Linked DNA regions of Homo sapiens: regions 1 and 3 are each linked to region 2. Evidence: fine-mapped expression QTL. A gene starts in region 2. Each other region holds a variant in brackets. All regions are shown on one strand. Distances are from middle to middle. Region 1 overlaps PLA2R1 (phospholipase A2 receptor 1). Region 2 holds the start of LY75 (lymphocyte antigen 75). Region 3 overlaps LY75-CD302 (LY75-CD302 readthrough).

Region 1 (2,763 bases), 110 kb after region 2:
TGAACAACAATCTGAATGCAGTTAATGACACTGAACTGCACACTGAAAAATGACTAACATGGTGAATTTTACGTTTATGTGTGTTTTACGTATATTTTACCACAATAAAAAAAATATTAACTGCAAAAGTGTTTTGGGGAGATATGACAGTTGCAGGAAAACGGTAGAGCTGTAAAAATGCTTTAAAATAATGCACATTTAAGCTTAGGAGGGGTATAGTGGCTCACACCTATAATCCCAGCACTTTGAGAGGCCGAGGCAGGAGGATTGCTTGAGCCCAGGAGTTCAAGACCAGCCATGGCAACATGGCAAGAACCTGTCTCTGTAAAAAATTTTAAAAAATTAGCCAGGCATGGTGGTACATGCCTGTAGTCCCAACTACTTGGGGGGCTGAGGCAGGAGGATTACTTGAGCCCAGGAGGTCAAAGCTGCAGTGAGTCATGAAGGCACCACTACACTCCAGCCTGGGCAACAGAGTAAGACACTGTCTCAAAAATAAATGAAAGTAAAATAAACTTAGGAGAAAATGAGATATTGCAGAATTTCTCACTTTTGGCAAAATTCACAAAATTGAATGCCATTTGGATTATTTTGTACCAATATTCTATGGCTGATTGATTCAAAATTTAGACATACATGGATTTAGCCAATTATCCATTATAATTTTGGAACTCAACTTTTGCATTCATGCTTTGTCTGGAAGCAAAGTGGCCAGGCCTGAAAAAATTTTGTAACAATCAGCAAGCAAACAAAAATTTGTTACTCAACAATAAGGATCTGTTTTTCTTCCCCTCTCTATTCCACAAAGTGTTAAAAGTCTTAGACCAGGAGCAGTTGCCTGATCACAAAAGAAATAAGTAATTTGTAGCAGGTGGTTCTAATTGTGCCCATCAAACCTGTCATTCCATTGTGCAGAAGAGTGGAAAATCGATTAGCAACTACAAGCTTGGGTACTGAAGAGTGACAGGAGTGTCTTAAACAGGAAATCAGTAATGGAAGAAAATGATTACCATGGCCACTAGTGGACACTCCTGGATCTGAGACACTTTCCATCTACTGCCCAACCTTCTCAGACAAAAGATGCTGTTTGCAAAAATTCCAACGTGTATGGTGAATCAAAAGCAGTACAGTGTGGACCCTTGTTTCTTCCCTGATGGACTCTGAATGATTAAAAACCAAGAGCATTGGCCCTTTCTTTCTTCAACTCATGAGTCCTGTG[T/C]TGGAGTTGCTGCTTTGAATGTAGACATGTTTTGGGGGTAGCATAAGTATATGTTAACTGACTTGGACAGATGACACATCCTGCTCATCTGTACTCCCTCAGGGCTTGGCGGGTGACCAGGCAGCACACCAGCACAGGGCAATCTGGACAGGCGTAGGAGGCCAAGACTGGGATAAAAACAAACTTCTCTATGCCATAGTTCTGCTTTACAGATGGACCAGGCATGAGCGCTGGCTACTGAATACAGTTTACCAGAGAAAACATTTAAAGTATTCACAACATAGTCTTGTATCCAGTTTTGGGGAAAATGAAACAGATTTTTTTCCCAGATACTTTCTGTCATTTGTATGAGGTCCCCAAAGGGTTCATGGAATATGAAGCATTTGTTCTAACAGATTTCTGCCTTAGCTTGGGTCACTGTGGCACTATGGGTTATCTGTAATGTCACTGTGAGTTTATCCATTTATTGTGCTATTCTACCTTCTTCACTTATTTCTTGTGTCTATGTTCGATCTCTTCAGCTGCTGGGTTTCAGAAAGCACTGGACAATAATAGCATGCCTTTTATTTCTTGTGGATAGCATGTCAGTGTTTAATATGGGGACTCTCACAAAACAGGTATTCAAAAAAAATTTTCTAATAAACTCTTGGCTATTAATTTTTTGTGTGGTCAGATAACATATGAAAAATAATTAACACAGTGCCAGGTATGTGACAGGCACTCAATGAACATTAAACAAAAAAATAAAGAATAAGACATAAAAAACAGGTGAAACAATTGGACTTATTTTCTTTGGTAAAAAACATAATTAAATTGTAATTAACAAAAGAGCGTATAGCTTCATTGGTCAGCCTCCTGTGAAGTCCAGTGTTGACTCACTGACTGGGGGACTTCCAACCCAAGGTGTTCTTGGAACCTTTTGGGTGAGTTAACAAATTGATAAAGGCTTTCTTCTGCCTGTTAGCCAAACCTGGGAGGAGAAAGGTAGAACTAAAAACAATGCTGAGATACATCAAAGGTAGTGCTATATTTCAACGGGAGGATCTCCTGAAAGTAAAATGTTTCACCAGGTGACTTAGTCTGCCAAATGCTATCAATCCATTTGAGTGTGTGTGTGTGTGCGTGTGTCTGTTTGTGTGTGTGTGTATGCATTCCTGTGCATTGTTTGGAACAGAAGCTGGGTAAGAAGGCAAGAAAGAGGGTAAGAGGAGGAAGGACATACTGGCAGCTTTGGATGTTGACTTCCAATGTGGGAGGAGCAGAGAAATCATACAGGAATTCCTCTACAAATTAGGCTTATATGGGAAGGGTCTCTAGGTAAAACCAGTTGTCCTATTTGCTGGTATTCAGTGAATATTTTTAAAGGCAATGGCCCAGGTAAATATGCAAGTGACTTGCTTTGCAGGTGTAGTTTCCTGTGGCACCACTGGAGTTCTACCCCGCTTCTGTCTTCCCCAGGAGGAGTGGGTCTCCCAGGTGTTCCAGCCCCCACTGTCCTCCTGGCATCGATACTAATATGAGGTCACCTTTACTCTTGGTATTTT
Region 2 (2,763 bases):
AGTGGCCGGTGGAGGGTGGCCCATTGAGTGCCCATGATGCAGTCCAACCAAGAAACAAAGTTCTCTGCACACCCCTCGCCCAGGCAAAAAGAGAAAGTAAAAGCAACCGGTTGCTGCCAAGGGGTGTGGTGTGGTGGGGCTGGCACTACCCTGAACATCAATGAAGGCTGTCTGTTTCTGGTCCTGCTTCCGCAGTGAGAGGCAGCAGGTCCCCAAGCAGGCGACCTGCCCTTCACCGTGAGGCTGTCAGCCTTGGGGGAGCGGGGTCATTTGGAGCTGATAAACCAATGAGAAGAAAGGTTTGTTGCTCTAGGCGGTGGGTGAGGGCATCATAGCTGACTCTTGGTCTTGGTCACTTTCGGAGGAGATGGTTTATTTAACCTGACTTCCTTCCTGATGCGCACCGTAGGCGCAGTGAAATCCGGGAATCGTGGGGAATCCTTGGCGCTGTGGGTGGAGGCTCCTCTTGGCCCTGTGGCCAAGGTGACCAAGGGCCGAAGGAAAAGCGAGAACGGGAGGGACGGGACGCAAGAGGGCAGATGGGGAACCCCATACTCCAGCAACATTATATAAGAGAGGCGACGATGGAGCAGCGCACCCGGCCAAAAAAGCCTCCGTGCGCCTACTCTACGGTGCACCGCGTCCCCTCTGCACCAGAAGGGCCCTGTCCTCCCACATCCACCGCGCCCTCCTCCGGGCCCCCGAGGGCACTGGGGCGCTTCCTCTGCCAGACCTCCCCTGCGACTCACTCTTCCGGCTCCAGAGCCCCCCCGCCCCAACAGCAAAGCAGCCGTGACCTGCCCCAGGGGCGCAGCCCTGCCCCAGGCTGGAAGGCAGCAGAGCTGTGGCGTCGAGGCACCCAGCGGACTGCGGGGCTGGCGTGCCCGCGGTTACCTGCGCGGCCAGAGGGCTCCGCGAGATCGAAGAACCAGAAGAGCAGCATGAGGAGCCCCGCCGGGCGGCGAGGGGTCGCCCAGCCTGTCCTCATCCTGAGCTGGCGCAAGCCTTCCGGCCGGGTCCTCGGGCGCACGCGGCTCCCGCCCCGCCTGCTGAGCGCGGCCTGCCCCGCCCGCACCTCTGTCTAGGCCTCTGGGGGCGCCCCGGCCCCGCCCCCGCCGCCCTCGGCCAATCAGACGTGCGTCTCCTCGGCCCCGGGGCGGAGCGGGCCAGGTGTGGGAAATGAACAGGGCTGGGCGCTAGATACCTGCGTGGGGTAGGACCCGCGAGGAAGAGGTACGTGCGGATCGGTGGGAGAGCCAGGCACCAGACAGGCTCCTGCACTGGAGGGTTCGGTCCCCGCCTCTTCATCAGCCAAGCTGGGGAGATGCGGCCCTTACTGGGACTTGGCACCGCCCTGGTGGGTGGGTTCTATCAGTTTAGAACCTTGGCCTCTGCCTGGCGCACTGTGGTCAGGGACGACTTCTCCATTCCAGCCTGGACTGGAAAGGGACCCATGATCTCTTCTACCCCGGAGGAGGAAGTGAGCACCTGCCCTGTGGGTGGCTGCGGCCAAGCCTAAGAATTCAGTCGTCCTTGGCAACGTCTTGGGTATTTTGACAGTGCAAACAAAGGTGGAATAATGGTACACTGCAGTTCTACCCATAGTTGTTAAAGAATTAAAAGCAAGAATTACTAGAATGACCAAACGACACTTCCAAGGATGACTTATGCTTTATAAAAAGTTGACCTTTGCGAGTAAGCTCTTTGCTTAATAATTTAATGATAATAATAATTAGCTGGTAGAAATGTAGAAGTCTGCATGCAGAACCAGAAATTTCATGTCCCACTCACTCTCTTCCTGTGGACACTGCTATCATTATAAAGAGGCCAAATTCTTAATGACCTAAGTTGCTCAAATGTGAATGTTTTATACTTTTAAATCTCGTCTTTGCTGAGCACATAATGTGTACTTGAGGTGGCCTCCATCCTTGTTGCATGAGGATGCAAAGACCTAGGTTGCTCTTCCTGACTCCCACTGCCAAGGTTTCACAGTTGGCTCCCAAACCTGCTCTGTCCTCTCCCCAGGGTCTGGCCTTTCAGTTCCATAGATATAGTGAGCACCTGCCATCACAGGATCTGGGCACGCCATGGAACAGAAGGACAAAAAGACAACATCTCTGCCCTCCCCTGAATACTGGGGAGACTGAGGCACTGTGATGGATAATATTGTCAGCTCGATTGATATGAACGAATGCAAAGTATTGTTCCTGGGTGTGTCTGTGAGGGTGTTGCCAAGGAGATTAACAGTGGACTGGGAGAGGCGGACCAGCCCTCAGTCTGGGTGGGCACCATCTCATCAGCTGCCAGCATGGCTAGAATAAAAGCAGGCAGAAGTTGGAAGGACTTGACTGGCTGAGTCTCCTGGCCTTCACCTTTCTCCCGTGCTAGATGCTTCCTACCCTCGAACATCGGACTCCAGGTTCTTCAGCTTTTGGACTCTTAGACCTATAAAAGTGGTTTGTCAGGGGATCTCTGGCCTTCGGCCACAGACTGAAGGCTGCACTGTTGGCTTCCCTACTTCTGAGGTTTTGGAACTCGGACTGGCTTCTTTGTTCCTCAGCTTGCAGACAGCCTATTGTGGGACTTCACCTTGTGATCATATGAGTCAATACTCCTTAATAAACTCCCTTTCATATATACATGTATCCTATTAGTCCTGTCCCTCTAGAGAACCCTAATACAGGCACACTCAGTGACACAGGGCAGAATGAATGGGGAAACTCTGACAAATGTTGAGGGAAGGCAACATCTTAGCTGGGTCTT
Region 3 (2,763 bases), 44 kb before region 2:
GGTTAAGAGTACCAGACCCAGACACACATGGGTGTAAATTTCAGTTCTTTCAGTTTAAATTTACTCCATGTAAGCTGGGGTAAATTACTCACAGCTCAAATTTCCATGTGAGATGAATACAGTAACAGTGCCTACCTCACAAGATTGCTTATGTGCTATGTGACATATGTGACATGCCTAGTATAGTGGCTGGCTCATAAAGGAGTTAATCAGTGTTAGCTGCTCCATCATCATCATCACCACCACCATGGACCATCACCATCACCATCCTTATTATTCTTTCATAATATTCTTGTTCTTGCATAAAACTTGTATTTCGCATGTCATAGTCTTTACTCAGTGGTGTTGTAATTGCTTGTTTACTTGTCTTTATTTCCTACTAGACTTTAGTTTTGTGAAGACAATGGCTATGCTTTGTACCTTGTCATTGTTCTATCACCCAGTGCCTCACTGACTCCTTGGACTGTTTATGAAATGGATACATGAATGCATTCTGCAAAGGAAGATGCCTCACTGGTCTTCTATGCCTTCCAATCTTACCTGTTGCTTTTGACATCTGTCTCAAGATGAATCTTCCTCATACCCTCCTTAGTTCATGTGACCCTCCCTACTCAGAAACTTTAAAAAATGCCCTGTTGCCTATCAAGAAGTGTAGAAATTCCTTAAAGTGGCATCAATCTGATTTCCTAATACTGTTATCAAGGACAGCACCAATGAAACTTCTTGATCTGTATTCTGTTCTCCACTGCCCTCTTCCACTTCCACCTTATTTTATACCACTTTCTCATACCATCCCCTCATGAAAAAACCTTACCCTATCCCATTTGTAGAAACTCTATCCATCCTTAAAGTCCCAGTTCAAGTCCCACCTCTTCCTGGGAAATGGCCATGGGACTCACTTTCTCCTCTGAATTTCATTAGCCTTCCTCAGCCCCCTCATTTGGAGCATATTACTGCGTGGTAATGAGAGAGGTTTTCTTGAATATGAATTTTATCCTCTCAAATGAAGTGTAAGTTAGGCTGCTGAGGGCCAGGCCATGGGTGTGCTTATCTCTCACTGCATCTAACATCATGCTTCACATAAAAAGACACTCCATGGATCTGTTACTTGACTGCATATGATGATGGACTTATGTTTTAAATATGCAGATTTTCCAGCATTGTACTGACCTTGACAGCAGCACAGTCTCTGATGTCATAATCCTGCTGAAACTCATTTGGCATGATAATAGTAGACACCTGAAAAGACAAGAGAGGCTTGAGAATTTAAGACTGATGTATAAATATTTGCAATTTAGATGTAATTTAGGCAGCCTTAATCACTCAAGTGCGTTGATATGCCACAGAAAGAAAACTTTTCCATCTCTTTTTTATATCATGATGCTAAATCATGAGAGGACTTAGCAAATGTCATAATGTCATAAGTTTCCAAACAAAGGAAGCCACAGTTTCAGAAGTGGAAGTTAATAGTGTATTAAGTTCGCCGCTGGAGTCATAGAGAATCAGGTTTGCAAAATACTTTTTTCTTTTTTTGCATGTGTTGAAATGCTCATTATTTGATTAACTAATCTCAGATATGCTCCAATTTGAAAATAAACTCAAGGAGTTTTACATTTAGAAAGAATAAAAAAGGAGGTGACATTGGAGTCACCAATTTTTGGTGACAAAAATTGGAGTAAATATTGAATAT[C/T]TGAGAATAATTTTGCTCCTATAACTATTACACTAATATATCCTTATAATATAAATGTGGAATAATAGCAAGGATTTTCTAGAGGTTTCTCCAAACAAATAATTTCCTCCAATAAGGATACTTTTGGCCAGGCACAGTGACTCATGCTGGTAATCCCAGCACTTTGGGAGGCCAAGGTTGGCAGATGGCTTGAGCCCAGGAATTCGAGACCAGCCTGGGCAACATGGTGAAACCCCATCTCTACAAAAAATACAAAAATTAGCTGGATGTGGTGGCATGTGCCTGTACTTGAGAGGCTGAGACATGAGGATCAATTGAACCCAGGAGGTTGAGGCTGCAGTGAGTCATACTGGCACCACTGTATTCTAGCCTGGGTGACACAGTGAGACTCTGTCATCCCCACCTAGTCCCCCCAGAAAAAGATATTTTATTTTTTGTATAACTCTTCCATATTTAGATAATAAAAAGAAAAGCTTCTTACTATAAAAATGAAAATAAACAGTATAAAGAGAAAGCTTTGAAAACAATCACTTGTGGCCAGATGTGGCTCACACCTGTAATTCCAACACTTTGGGAGGCTAAGATGGGTAGACTGCCTGAGCTCAGGAGTTTGAGACCAGCCTGGGCAACATGGTGAAACCCTATCTCTACAAAAAAATATAAGAATTAGCTGGGCGTGGAAGGGCACGGTAGCTCACACCTGTAATCCCAGCACTTTGGGAGGCTGAGGCGGGTGGATCACAGGGTCAGGAGTTAGAGATCACCCTGGCCAATATGGTGAAACCCCATCTCTACTAAAAAATTAGTTGGGCGTGGTGGCACATGCCTGAAGTCCCAGCCACTCAGGAGGCTGAGGCAGGAGAATGGTGTGAACCCGGGAGGCGGAGCTTGCAGTGAGCAGAGATTGCACGACTGCACTCTAGCCTGGGCGACAGAGTGAGACTACGTCTCAAAAAAAAAAAAAAAAAATTAGCCGGGCGTGATGGCATGCATCTGTGGTCTCAGCTACTGGGGAGGCTAGGTGGGAAGATCGCTTGAGCCTGGGAGGTGAAGGTTGTAGTGAGTTGAGATCG

Evidence for each region.
Region 1: its variant is fine-mapped to the expression of LY75 in thyroid (GTEx, PIP 0.93).
Region 3: its variant is fine-mapped to the expression of LY75 in whole blood (INTERVAL, PIP above 0.99).

The regions. Positions count from the first base shown.
Region 1 is chr2:160,009,619-160,012,381 of GRCh38, forward strand. All of the region lies in intron 10 of PLA2R1 (phospholipase A2 receptor 1), which reads right to left. Among named protein-coding and RNA genes, the nearest start is that of PLA2R1, 52 kb to the right of the region's middle. The variant T/C (reference allele first, on the strand shown) is at 1,220.
Region 2 is chr2:159,903,695-159,906,457 of GRCh38, forward strand. LY75 (lymphocyte antigen 75) reads right to left here and starts at 1,062. Exons shown (of 35, transcript NM_002349.4): 1 at 895-1,062. The coding sequence starts at 988. It overlaps LY75-CD302 (LY75-CD302 readthrough), which reads right to left and starts at 1,062. Exons shown (of 38, transcript NM_001198760.1): 1 at 895-1,062. The coding sequence starts at 988. RefSeq lists enhancers at 1-23, 74-123, 344-393, 534-613 and silencers at 794-1,253, 1,023-1,264.
Region 3 is chr2:159,859,651-159,862,413 of GRCh38, forward strand. It overlaps LY75-CD302 (LY75-CD302 readthrough), which reads right to left. Exons shown (of 38, transcript NM_001198760.1): 15 at 1,171-1,239. LY75 (lymphocyte antigen 75) reads right to left here. Exons shown (of 35, transcript NM_002349.4): 15 at 1,171-1,239. Among named protein-coding and RNA genes, the nearest start is that of LY75, 44 kb to the right of the region's middle. The variant C/T (reference allele first, on the strand shown) is at 1,691.